3 linked regions of the Homo sapiens genome follow. The protein of the gene in region 3 purifies or fractionates together with the protein of the main gene of each other region. This does not show direct contact. Each region holds a gene or a part of one and is shown on either strand. Other genes may lie near its edges.

Region 1 (3,657 bases), on a different chromosome or scaffold from region 3:
TCAGGTGCTATTAAGTATGTTATTGTAAGAGACAAAATTATTTGTTTCAGTAAACCCTTGGAAAAATATTTTAGAGAATTACATTGAATTATTTCAGATAAATAAGCATAGGTAAGTAGGTAAAAGGAAGTCGGTTTTTCTAAAACACAAAACAAAGCAAGTTGTCTTACAGTTTCATTGAGTACCTCCTAAATGAAGTAAATTTGAAAATTAAGAGAAGACATCTTTTTTCATTTTTAACAACATATATTGAAGCATTGAAAAACATTTAGGTGGAAAAGGTTTGTTGGAGAGTAAGGGAAAGAACAGATCATCTGCTCAGATGATTCCTTGTAGTCCTGATTTGTCTTTTCAGGTATTTGTTAGGTGGTGGTAGGTTAATAGCAATTCCATCAGTCTTCATGGTGATTATTTTCTAGCCAGAACACTGTAAGTGTGCATGGTTAAATATTACATCAATTGGGGAGATACTGGTCAAAGAGTACAGTTTCAGTTAGGAGGAATAAGTTCTGGAGATCTGCACAGCATGTGACTACAGTTAATAATAATGTACTGTATATTTGACAATTGCTAAGAGAAAGGAAGTAAATAAGAAGATCCTACAACAACTGCTGAGTCTTTTTAGTTAGAAAGCAGGCTTTAATGATATCAGACTTAAGTTTGCAAGACTCTTTTTCTAAGCTTCCTCAAGTCTCTTCCTTAAATGTTGATATTTCAGGTTATCAGAAGTTCCTATATTCTTTTTTTTTTTTTTTTATTTTTGAGATGGAGTCTCGCTCTGTTGCCCAGGCTGGAGTGCAGTGGTGCGATCTCGGCTCACTGCAAGCTTCGCCTCCCGGGTTCATTCCATTCTCCTGCCTCAGCTTCCTGAGTAGCTGGGACTACAGGCGCCCGCCACCATGCCTGGCTAATTTTTTGTGTTTTTAATAGAGACGGGGTTTCACCGTGTTAGCCAGGATGGTCTCGATCTCCTGACCTCGTGATCCGCCCACCTCGGCCTCCCAAAGTGCTGGGATTACAGGCGTGAGCCACCGTACCCAGCCCAGAAGTTCCTATATTCTAGAAAATAGTCTATAATATAATAATATACATTTTATTTAAAAACAAAACTAAACTAAGATTGTTTTTCCAAGAATAGGGATGGATTTCTGTTTTCTCTCACATGATCCACTGGGTTTTGTAACCTGTTGGAATAATGGTATATAAATAGCTGTGGAACAGAACAAAAAGGAATGAAGTAATGTCTGTCATGGAAATTACACGTTGATGACTGTAGCCATATGAGTGCATGGATTAACCACTGAATTGAGAAGTACTCTTAGATTAGCATATTATGTCCTTTGAGGGGGAAACATTTTTTTTTTGCTCTCTTTCTGACTTCATGGGAGGTAGAAAGTGATGAAAGACGAGAGGGACCAGGAATCTTCCTGGTTGACAATTATAGTAGTAATGGATTGTTGAAATTGCTGTTTACTTACTGGTTCTTTATGAAATAAAGAAGTGATGGAGGTTCCTTTTATGTCACTAAATTATTAACCATACCTCAGATAATATGCCATACATTGTCTTTACACAGTGAGGTCATTGTGTACTGATGGTTTGCAATCAATCAGTTGTGCTAAAGACCAAGTTTAGTATCAGTGGGTGTGTTTGCAAACCATTCTGGCTTTGTGGTTAATGTTTATGAAAATGAAAATAGTCTTAACCACTTTTAACAGCTTCTTTTTTTTTTTTTTTTTTTTTTTTTGAGACGGAGTTTCGCCCTTGTTGCCCAGGCTGGAGTGCAATGGTGCCATCTCGGCTCACCACAAGCCCTGCCTCCCGGGTTCAAGTGATTTCTCCTGCCTCAGCCTCCTGAGTAGCTGGTATTACAGGCATGCTCCACCAGGCCCGCCTAATTTTGTGTTTTTGTTTGTTTGTTTGTTTTTGTTATTGAGACAGAGTCTTGCTCTGTCGCCCAGGCTGGAGTGCAGTGGTGCAATCTCGGCTCACTGCAAGCTCCGCCTCCTAGGTTCACACCATTCTCCTGCCTCAGCCCCCTGAGTAGCTGGGACTACAGGCGCCTGCCACCATGCCCGGCTATTTTTTTTTTTTTTGTATTTTTAGTAGAAATGGGTTTCACCGTGTTAGCCAGGATGGTCTCGATCTCCTGACCTCATGATCCGCCCGCCTTGGCCTCCCAAAGTGCTGGGATTACAGGTGTGAGCCACCATACCCGGCCTTGGTTTTGTATTTTTAATAGAGACGTGGTTTCTCCATGTTGGTCAGACTGGTCGCGAACTCCCAACCTCAGGTGATCTGCCCACCTTGGCTTCCCAAAGTACTGACTGGGATTACAGGTGTGAGCCACTGTGCCTGGCCTTTAACAGCTTTTTTTTTTTTTTTTTTTGAGACGGAGTCTTGCTCTGTCGCCCAGGCTGGACTGCAGTGGCGTGATCTCGGCTCACTGCAACCTCTGCCTCCCGGGTTCATGCCATTCTCCTGCCTCAGCCTCCCGAGCAGCTGGGACTACAGGCGCCCGCCACCATGACCAGCTAATTTTTTGTATTTTTAGTAGAGACGGGGTTTCACTGTGTTAGCCAGGATGGTCTCGATCTCCTGACCTCGTGATCCACCCACCTCAGCCTCCCAAAGTCCTGGGATTACAGGCATGAGCCACCGTGCCTGGCCTAACAGCCTCTTAAGTGAATGCGAGAATTTAGTGCATACTTGCTGTATTTGAAGGGTTATTTGCTAGTTTTCCTGTACAGTTCCTCCCCTCTCCGCCCCTAATACACATATAGTATCAAGTAATTACTCCAACTAAGAGAATAAAACAGGTCCCTGAAAATCAGAACACTTAAATTTGATGCAGAAAGATTTTTTGTTTGGTCTGCTTTGATGTAGTTTGCCTTTGCAAAAGTGGAGGTGGAGGAATTGGAAGGAGGTCCTGGAAGCCATTTTCGTGACTTAGAATATAATACATGTACATTTTAATTATGTAATTTTCTCTTTAATATTTAAAATGTCCTATTTTCTAAACAAATTGGTTGGTTGGTCAAATAAATGATTCATTTGTTTTAAACAGGTCAAGGTGAAGATGTTCTTAAAGGGTCCCAGATTACGTATGTTACAGGTGTAGAAGGGGACGACGTTGTTTCTACACAAGTAGCCACAGTAACCCAATCTGGACTGAGTCAACAAGTTACACTCATATCCCAGGATGGGACTCAGCATGTAAGTATCCACCAAAAGCCAAACAAATTAAATCTTTCTGTGAACCTGGGCTTGAAAGGCAGGCTGGGTCCCCATTGAGGAAAGCTTTGAAATATCAGGGCACAAAGTTTGGAAACCCTGAGGTTTTTCAGTAGTCTGCTTACAGAGACTACGTGCAGAGAGATTAGGAGAGAGAGAAGGTTTGTGACTGTAGAATCCGAATGGTATTCTTGGTGTAGTTCAAAGGTGAGATGATAAAGGTCAGCCACAGAGAGGCTCAGGGCTTCAAAAGTACTGGATCCATGTGAAACACAGATCAGAAAAGGGATAGGATTTGGTGGCTGATTAGATGCAGGAGGTGAGATTGAGAAAACAGAGATTTGGCTGAGGTGATCAGCATATGATGGCACCATTAAGAGATCAGGAATCATGAGAGTTCACTCAACTAGCCTCACAGAGTCG
Region 2 (3,657 bases), on a different chromosome or scaffold from region 3:
TTTAAAGCCTTATGTCTTTCTAAAATTCCCAGATTTATTGTAGCTTTTATTAGCACTTTTCACTTTCTTGCAAAAGACATGGCAAAGTGTTTAATCCTACATATATCTTAGTGCCTTCTCAGTCACTAAAACCCAGGACATCAGCTGGTGTGCTGCTTTCGTGGGTGCACTACTTTGTAAATATTCTGTGCTTATTTCTTGCCTTGTGTCTATTCTGTCCTCCCTGGTAGCTTGTGAGGTGCTGGAGAGCAGGTACCAGATATTCAACTCTTTAAACTTTCCCAATGTCAAGTGCAAAGAATGATGTACTGGGGTCACTCAGTAAATACAATTGATTGGCTAGTGTTTTAGTCCTTCATCATGAGCCTCAGCAATTTTACAACAACTACCAGCTTAAATCTTTACCTAATCCAAAACACAGATATTATAGTGAATGTAGGAAATCACCCACCAACATTGATTTAGCATGTTTACAGTGCCAGATCTACATGCAAGCTAACTGTTCATATCAGCATCCAACCTCACTTTTAGAATCTAGGTTTTCATATTCAATGTCCAACATATTCTCAATCTTCTAAAATGCATCCATTTAAGAATTAGTTAAGAGACAACATGGGGAGAGAATAACAATGCTTAATTTTATACACTTTTCTCCCCTAGGAGGTTCAGATGTTGATTTTTTCTCTCTCCTTTTTGTTTTTCTCTCATCATTTTGACATGCTTATTTTCCAGGGCTTGTTTGAAAAATTAAAATATTCACATAATTTTGTTAAGGAGACTAGATGCATTGAGGAATTAGATTATGGGAGATATATGTTCAGTTTGTGGTTGGCTTAGCTGTTACCATCCTCTCTACACTCTTCTATTGACCTCATATCTACCAGACTAAGAAATGCTTTGTTTCTATTATCAAATTTGCATATGTACTCAAATTTGTGTGTGTGTGTTCAACACACACCATTTGTTCTAAAATTACATTTTGCTCTGTATCACCTAACCAAACTACCTATGGTAGACCTCCATCGTCCCATTGCTGCCTCTCATGAGGCACAGCTGAGTTCCATCAGGTTTCATTATTTATTCATTAAAATAAAACAGCAGAGGCTGGGCGCAGTGGCTCATGCCTGTAATCCCAGCACTTTGAAAGGAGGCTGAGGCGGCGGATCACGAGGTCCGGAGTTCAAGACCAGCCTGGCCAACGTAGTGAAACCCCGTCTCTACTGAAAATACAAAAATTAGGGAGGAATTGTGGCACGCGCCTGTAGTCCTAGCTACTTGGGAGGCTGTGGCAGGAGAATTGCTTGAACCTGGGAGGCAGAGGTTGTAGTGAGCCGAGATCGTGCCACCACACTCCAGCCTGGGCAACAGAGCAAGACTCCATCTCAAAAATAAATAAATAAAACAGCAGAGGAAACAGAACATTTAAATTCATCCCACATAAAATCCCCAAGCCGATGTTCAACTTTTGAATATTTGGTTTGGTTTTATACCAAATGTTATGGTGCTGCATTTGAACAACTGACAGGTCATTACTACATTTCTTTAAAATAAGCTATTTTAGATTGCATAAAACACTTCCACTTGAGAGTAACTTGACATACTCCTATTTCTATAATATTCTATTATTTCTATAATATTCCAATAAATAGGATAAAACTTTACTGTCTCAATTTAAAAGCTAGATGCCGAAATGGTTTCAATAAACTATTAAAAATACAAAGTCAGAGCAATATATTAGTAAAAATTCTTTTCTTGAATGTATATTACATGGAAATTCCCCACATTTGAATTTAAACTCAAAGCCAAGATTGCCTAAGATGTAAGGTGTATGTAGTTATACTGATACTAAATGACTGAATACTTTCCTAGCTCACCTATCTTTTCCTTTTCCCTTCAAGGAACTTAAGATTTGGCTCCCAACATAGGGGAAAAAACAAAAAGTTGTATGGGAAATTCAAAAGAAATAGCTGTTGGAAGAGAAGGGTGCTACACTGTTGCATTGTAATGCATCTTCATTTTAATAGTTACATGTCCTTCAGCCTTTCAATACCACTTCCAGATAGTCATACATAATACCCCACTCACTTAAGGAAATAAGGTTGATTCATCAGTGTAAAATACTGCATTACCAAACTGACATATTTTAAGCAAACTTTATTTACATCATAAATGTGGTTACTTCTTATGACACAAAGCGCCCCATGTCTGAATATTATGCCTGTGTACTTCCACTTCATTAGATGCAACAGTTTTATGTATCAAATCAGGACTACTAATTTCTGGAGAAACAGATTGATACAATATTCATTTGGCTAGAAGTAAGTAAGAGTTAAGGAATTCAATAAAAAATGCATGCAAAAGTTCAATGCAGAAAAACTGCTTTGTTCTACTAGCCTTTATTAATAGAATAAATTATATCATTTATTATTTTCAGATTCTGAAGCTAGGTTCAGATATATTCTGTGTCATAAGCGTATGTAAAAATGGCGTAAAAACAAAATTGTTTTGTTTTAGAAAGAAACGTATCTTTCGTATAGACATTTCTTCAGCATGGAAAACAATACTTCTTCATACACAAAAACTTAAAAAAATCAAGCTTTCCATTAATTTTATAGAAATATATTCTTAGAACTATGTGAATAAAGATTACAACTGTCCCAAATTGCTTTCAGTTGGTACAAAATATGTAGCTAACTAATCATGGAAAGAAAATTTTGTACTTCCCTTTCTTCAAAAGAAACAGAATATTTCAATCCCCATAACTATTTACATACATGCACTGGCAATAATGTATGTTGTAGTATCTTTGAAATAAACAGACCATAATTCAAGGGTTGCTTTTACAATAAGTGAAATTAATGCAGCCACTGGTTGAAAATGTGTACATACAAATCTTTAAGTTAAAATATGTTAGATTATCAACATCTTTTTTCTGTGTAGCTAAAAGATGGATATTAAATTTAATATAATACAGCATAGGTCATTTTAAAATTGAGAAAATTATTTAGGACAATATGTGGTTATGTTTATAAAGCTACATCAAGCTACATTTCAGAATGAATGTGTCAGCTGATAAAAAGAACCTGCTGTGATAAGACCATCCTCACTGAGAAATAAAAAAAAAAAACAAAAAACCAACAGCATGTGAAATCAGGTTACTTGAAATTTATGTAACTCTACACCAAGGTATTATGAATATTATACAATCTCATTCATTTCCACTCATGTCCTGCTCTTCCATAGTACACTCAAGTTTATTTTACATTTCATGGAGACATATTACTTTTTCTAATGATTTTTTTTCTTTCTGTCAAAGTACAAAGCATACCAATATGGTCATTTGCTCCAATATAGCCCAACGGATGGTATTTTTTTATTAATAAAATGTGGAAGTAACTAGTATGTTTTTATGGGGAAAATTACAAAATAAGTTTACCAAAATAGACTGGATCACTAAAACAAGAAGAATGGTTTGGCATATATAACTTTTAAAAGTATGGTAACAAAACAAACTGTTAAGTTCCATTTTACCTGGTATTATCTGTTCCTTCTGATTAAAAGAATTAGATTTGAGAAAATCACATCTATCTCTTGAGTACAAATTAGCTATCACTTTTTAGATGACCATGCCATTCTTCAGTTTTTGATATAGCTTCC
Region 3 (3,657 bases):
ATCATTCTGAGTTTATACTATTAATCAATTCCAATAAATGTGTTTCCCATTAGGCTTTTAAGTAGACTCCTTAACACTTGTGAGGGATAAATCCCAAGAGCTTTTTAAATCTCCAAATTCCCGACTATCTCCATGGCATATAATTTCCTTCATAAAACAGAGTGAAGTGTAACTGAAAAATGTAACTCACCTTTTTAGACCTTTAATACATCTATAAATACAATCTAAAGCAATTTCTAAAGCCATTTTCTGGTTAAGCGTAACCTCTGATTTCCATTACCAACTTTAGCAACTGGATTTGGGGGGCGGGGGGCTTCCCTTTTACTCCCAAGAAAGAAAAAATTGAAATTAAAGCGTTTCAATGTAGGAAGAGAATAAAAAATAATGAAGCTATATCAAGGTACAGCTCTTAGGCCAGCCAGACTCATTAACTTAGGAGTCTCACTCCAAGCCCACCAAGCTAACAGCATGCAAGATTCATGTATGCATTCCAGCTGTTACAGCTTTTTAAAGATGATAACAATAAATCTAATATACACATTGTCCTATTTAATATACTTTTAAGGTTAATTATGTTTAAATTTATTTAAAATTTTTGAAATTTTAAATGTTATCTAATTCCACATTTGTATGTGTCTAAAAATATCAGAAATGATGAGTTTACAAAAATGGATACATTTTAATATTATGTACCATTAAAATATTTTCTCTGTCTTAAAAAAAAGATTCATGTATGCATTTTAGTAATAAAATTTTCCCATAAGTCTATGATTTGGAGGTTTTTTTAAAAAGTGAATTTTTATTTATTTATTTTTTTGAGACAGGGTCTCACTCTATTGCTCAGGCTAGAGTGCAATGGCATGATCATGACTAACCGCAGCTTCAACTTCTGGGCTCAAGCAATCCTCCCACCTCAGCTTCCCAAACTGCTGGGATTACAGGTACGTACCACCAGGCCCAGCTAATTTTTTAATTCTTTATTTTGTAGAGACAGGTGTCTCACTCTGTTGCCCAGGCTGGTCTTGAACTCCTAGACTCAAGAGATCCACCCACCTCGGCCTTACAAAGTGCTGGGATTACAGGCATGAGCCACCGTGCCCGACCAAAAGTGAATATTTGAAACTATAAATTTTAGACCTGCAAATGCTAAGAGTCTTAGAAAATCACCCAAAGATCCCTCTTAATACTTTCGTGGGCCCATGGAATCCTAGACCGTAGACTATTTCTGTTTTTAAGGAGGTAAAATATAGGTAGAATAACTTGTATCTTAAATAGAAAGAATAAAAATTTCTGTTAGGGTACAAGAATCTGATGTTAAGTGTTTAACAACTAAATTTTCCTTTATCTTCACCTTTGTGCCAGGTTTGACTGAAATTCATCTGGAATTCCTTTTACATAGATATATGGAAGCAGCTGACTCACTCTTGGGCTAAGTACCTGAATCTGTTCTTGAGTCCACTGGTCGAGGTTAACTGACTTTACCCTGGATATGTGCACCCCCAGATTCCTGTGGATTCCAGCACATCGAATGCAGATGAACACACCAATGTTCCAAGAGGCCCATCGCGGCCCTGTGAAAGTCAGGAACAGGGCAATAAAGTACAAATTACAACATTCAAGGCCTAAACTACAATATTAGATTATCAGACATTTCTGCTAGAACATAAGTGAAATAATTTTTACCATAACCACCTGTTTATTGACTCTGCTCATTCCTCCATGTGTCAGCTTTTCTTTAGTTTAAATTTAAGTGTACAATACAGTGGTTTTTAATATATTCACACAGTTGTGCAATGATTACTACTATCTAATTCCAGAACATTTTCATTAGTCCAAAAGAAATCACAAACCCATTAGCAGGCACTACCCATTTTCTCCCAGCTCTTCCTCCCAGCCCCTGGCAACTATGAATCTACTTTTTATCTCTATGGATTGCCAATTCTGGGCATTTAATATAAAAAGAATTATATAATAAGTGGGCATTTGTGCATGGTACAATTTTTTTACAGTGTCTGCTAATATGAGTGTTGAAACGCAGATGTTATAAGACTGTTACTTATATTAAGAAAAATCCCAGGAGTGCAAAGCCATGTCATATTCTATTTGGCCGAGCACCTTACATAAACAGTCCTCTCCCAAGAGACGTTTTAGTGGTGATGGGCCTGTATTCACCACTTTTTAGTGGTGGCCTGTATTCGGTTTTCCTACCAGGAAAAAAGATAGATATGGCATGCTTGTCCATGGCTCAACCTGTAATTGAAACTGTGTTTATCTTCCCCCCAACCCCAGGCCTATAAAATATGCATTCGCATTAACTTAATAGGATCTTTTCCCCTTAGGCTGATGTTCCTACTTTACTCAACTACTGAAGTATCTTGTTTCAAGATTGCCAAATAATAAAGATGCTTATAGCAACAAAAAAGAAATCTCAAATATGAATTTTAATTCAAAACTGTTACAGAATCTCCCATCCCCTGCCAGTGTTACTCATCCTAATAATCACTCTGAAAAATTATCATACTCCTCTTCATAATTTTTACCCAGGAAAGAAAAATGACTTATATGAAACCTGCCAAAAACTTACTAAAAAATCAGAAATACTTCCTTCTCCATTATCCCACTTGGCAGAAATTTACCACATAAAATAAGTGTGATATAAAAATTAGAGGATGCAATAAAGAGGTGAAAAGACACTGATTTTCTACAGAGATAAACAGGGCCTACGCTTGGAACGACAACGAGCACAAGACTTCAGTTCTTTAGGACACAGACAATTATTTGGTTAGCTAGCAGGTTTTTAATTTTTTAATTTTTATTTTTAGAGGCAGTCTCGCTGTCACCCGGACAGGGAGTGCTGTGGCACGATCATAGCTCACTGCAGCCTCGTCTTCCTGGGCTCAAGCGATCCTCCTGCCTCAGCCTCTGGAGTAGCTGGGACTATAGGCGTGTGCCACCCTGCCTGGCTAATATTTTTATTTACTGTAGAGACTAGGTCTCACTATGTTGCCCAGGCTGGTCTTGAACTCCTGTCCTCAAACAATTCTCCCACTTTGGCCTCCCGAAGTGCTGGGATTACAGGTGTGAGCCATTGTGCCTGGCCAGCCTGAAGGTTTTGACAGCAGTTTTAATGAAGGAATGCTAGAATTGTGTGGCAGAAAATTAGTTTTAGAAATTTGAATTCATGATTATTACAAATAAGAATGTAATTTTTTGACAAAGATATCACTTATTTACTATCGCAAATACTGCAACAGAAGGCTCACATTCTCCTTATTACCACCAGGTGGTGCTCTCCGCCTGAAATTTTATCCCAATACCTTATTGCTATCACAAGCTCCGATTTACCTTCTAAAAAGATATTTAGTCCCTTCACATTCCTAGATGGATTTACATAGTTGGTCCGCCATGTATCTAATAAACACAAAAATGATTCGCACACTTGTTTCATGTGGGAGAGTGTCACGTCAAACACAAAATGAAAACCCTAAACTGATGTAAATGGGGTTTCTTAACATGTGGTATATCCATTTTAGGTTACAGTTTTCATAAAGGAACTCCAATAAGATCTAAGTTATATAAGATTTAAAATGGCACCAAGTTAATATTTCATGTTTCTTAAAGCACTTTTCCTTTGCTCTAGATTCCAGAGTCTAGAAC

The links.
Region 1: the proteins of SMAP2 (region 3) and ZNF143 purify together in Homo sapiens (affinity purification with mass spectrometry, with the first as the bait; one large-scale study listed by BioGRID). This does not show direct contact.
Region 2: the proteins of SMAP2 (region 3) and RBMS1 purify together in Homo sapiens (affinity purification with mass spectrometry, with the first as the bait; one large-scale study listed by BioGRID). This does not show direct contact.

What each region holds. Positions count from the first base shown.
Region 1 is NC_000011.10:9,509,381-9,513,037, forward strand, and holds part of ZNF143 (zinc finger protein 143), read left to right. Parts: intron 1-3,067; coding exon 3,068-3,216; intron 3,217-3,657. UniProt on the Homo sapiens protein: Transcriptional activator. Activates the gene for selenocysteine tRNA (tRNAsec). Binds to the SPH motif of small nuclear RNA (snRNA) gene promoters. Participates in efficient U6 RNA polymerase III transcription via its interaction with CHD8.
Region 2 is NC_000002.12:160,487,192-160,490,848, forward strand, and holds part of RBMS1 (RNA-binding motif, single-stranded-interacting protein 1), read right to left. Parts: intron 1-3,657.
Region 3 is NC_000001.11:40,404,650-40,408,306, reverse strand, and holds part of SMAP2 (stromal membrane-associated protein 2), read right to left. Parts: intron 1,572-3,657; coding exon 1,438-1,571; intron 1-1,437.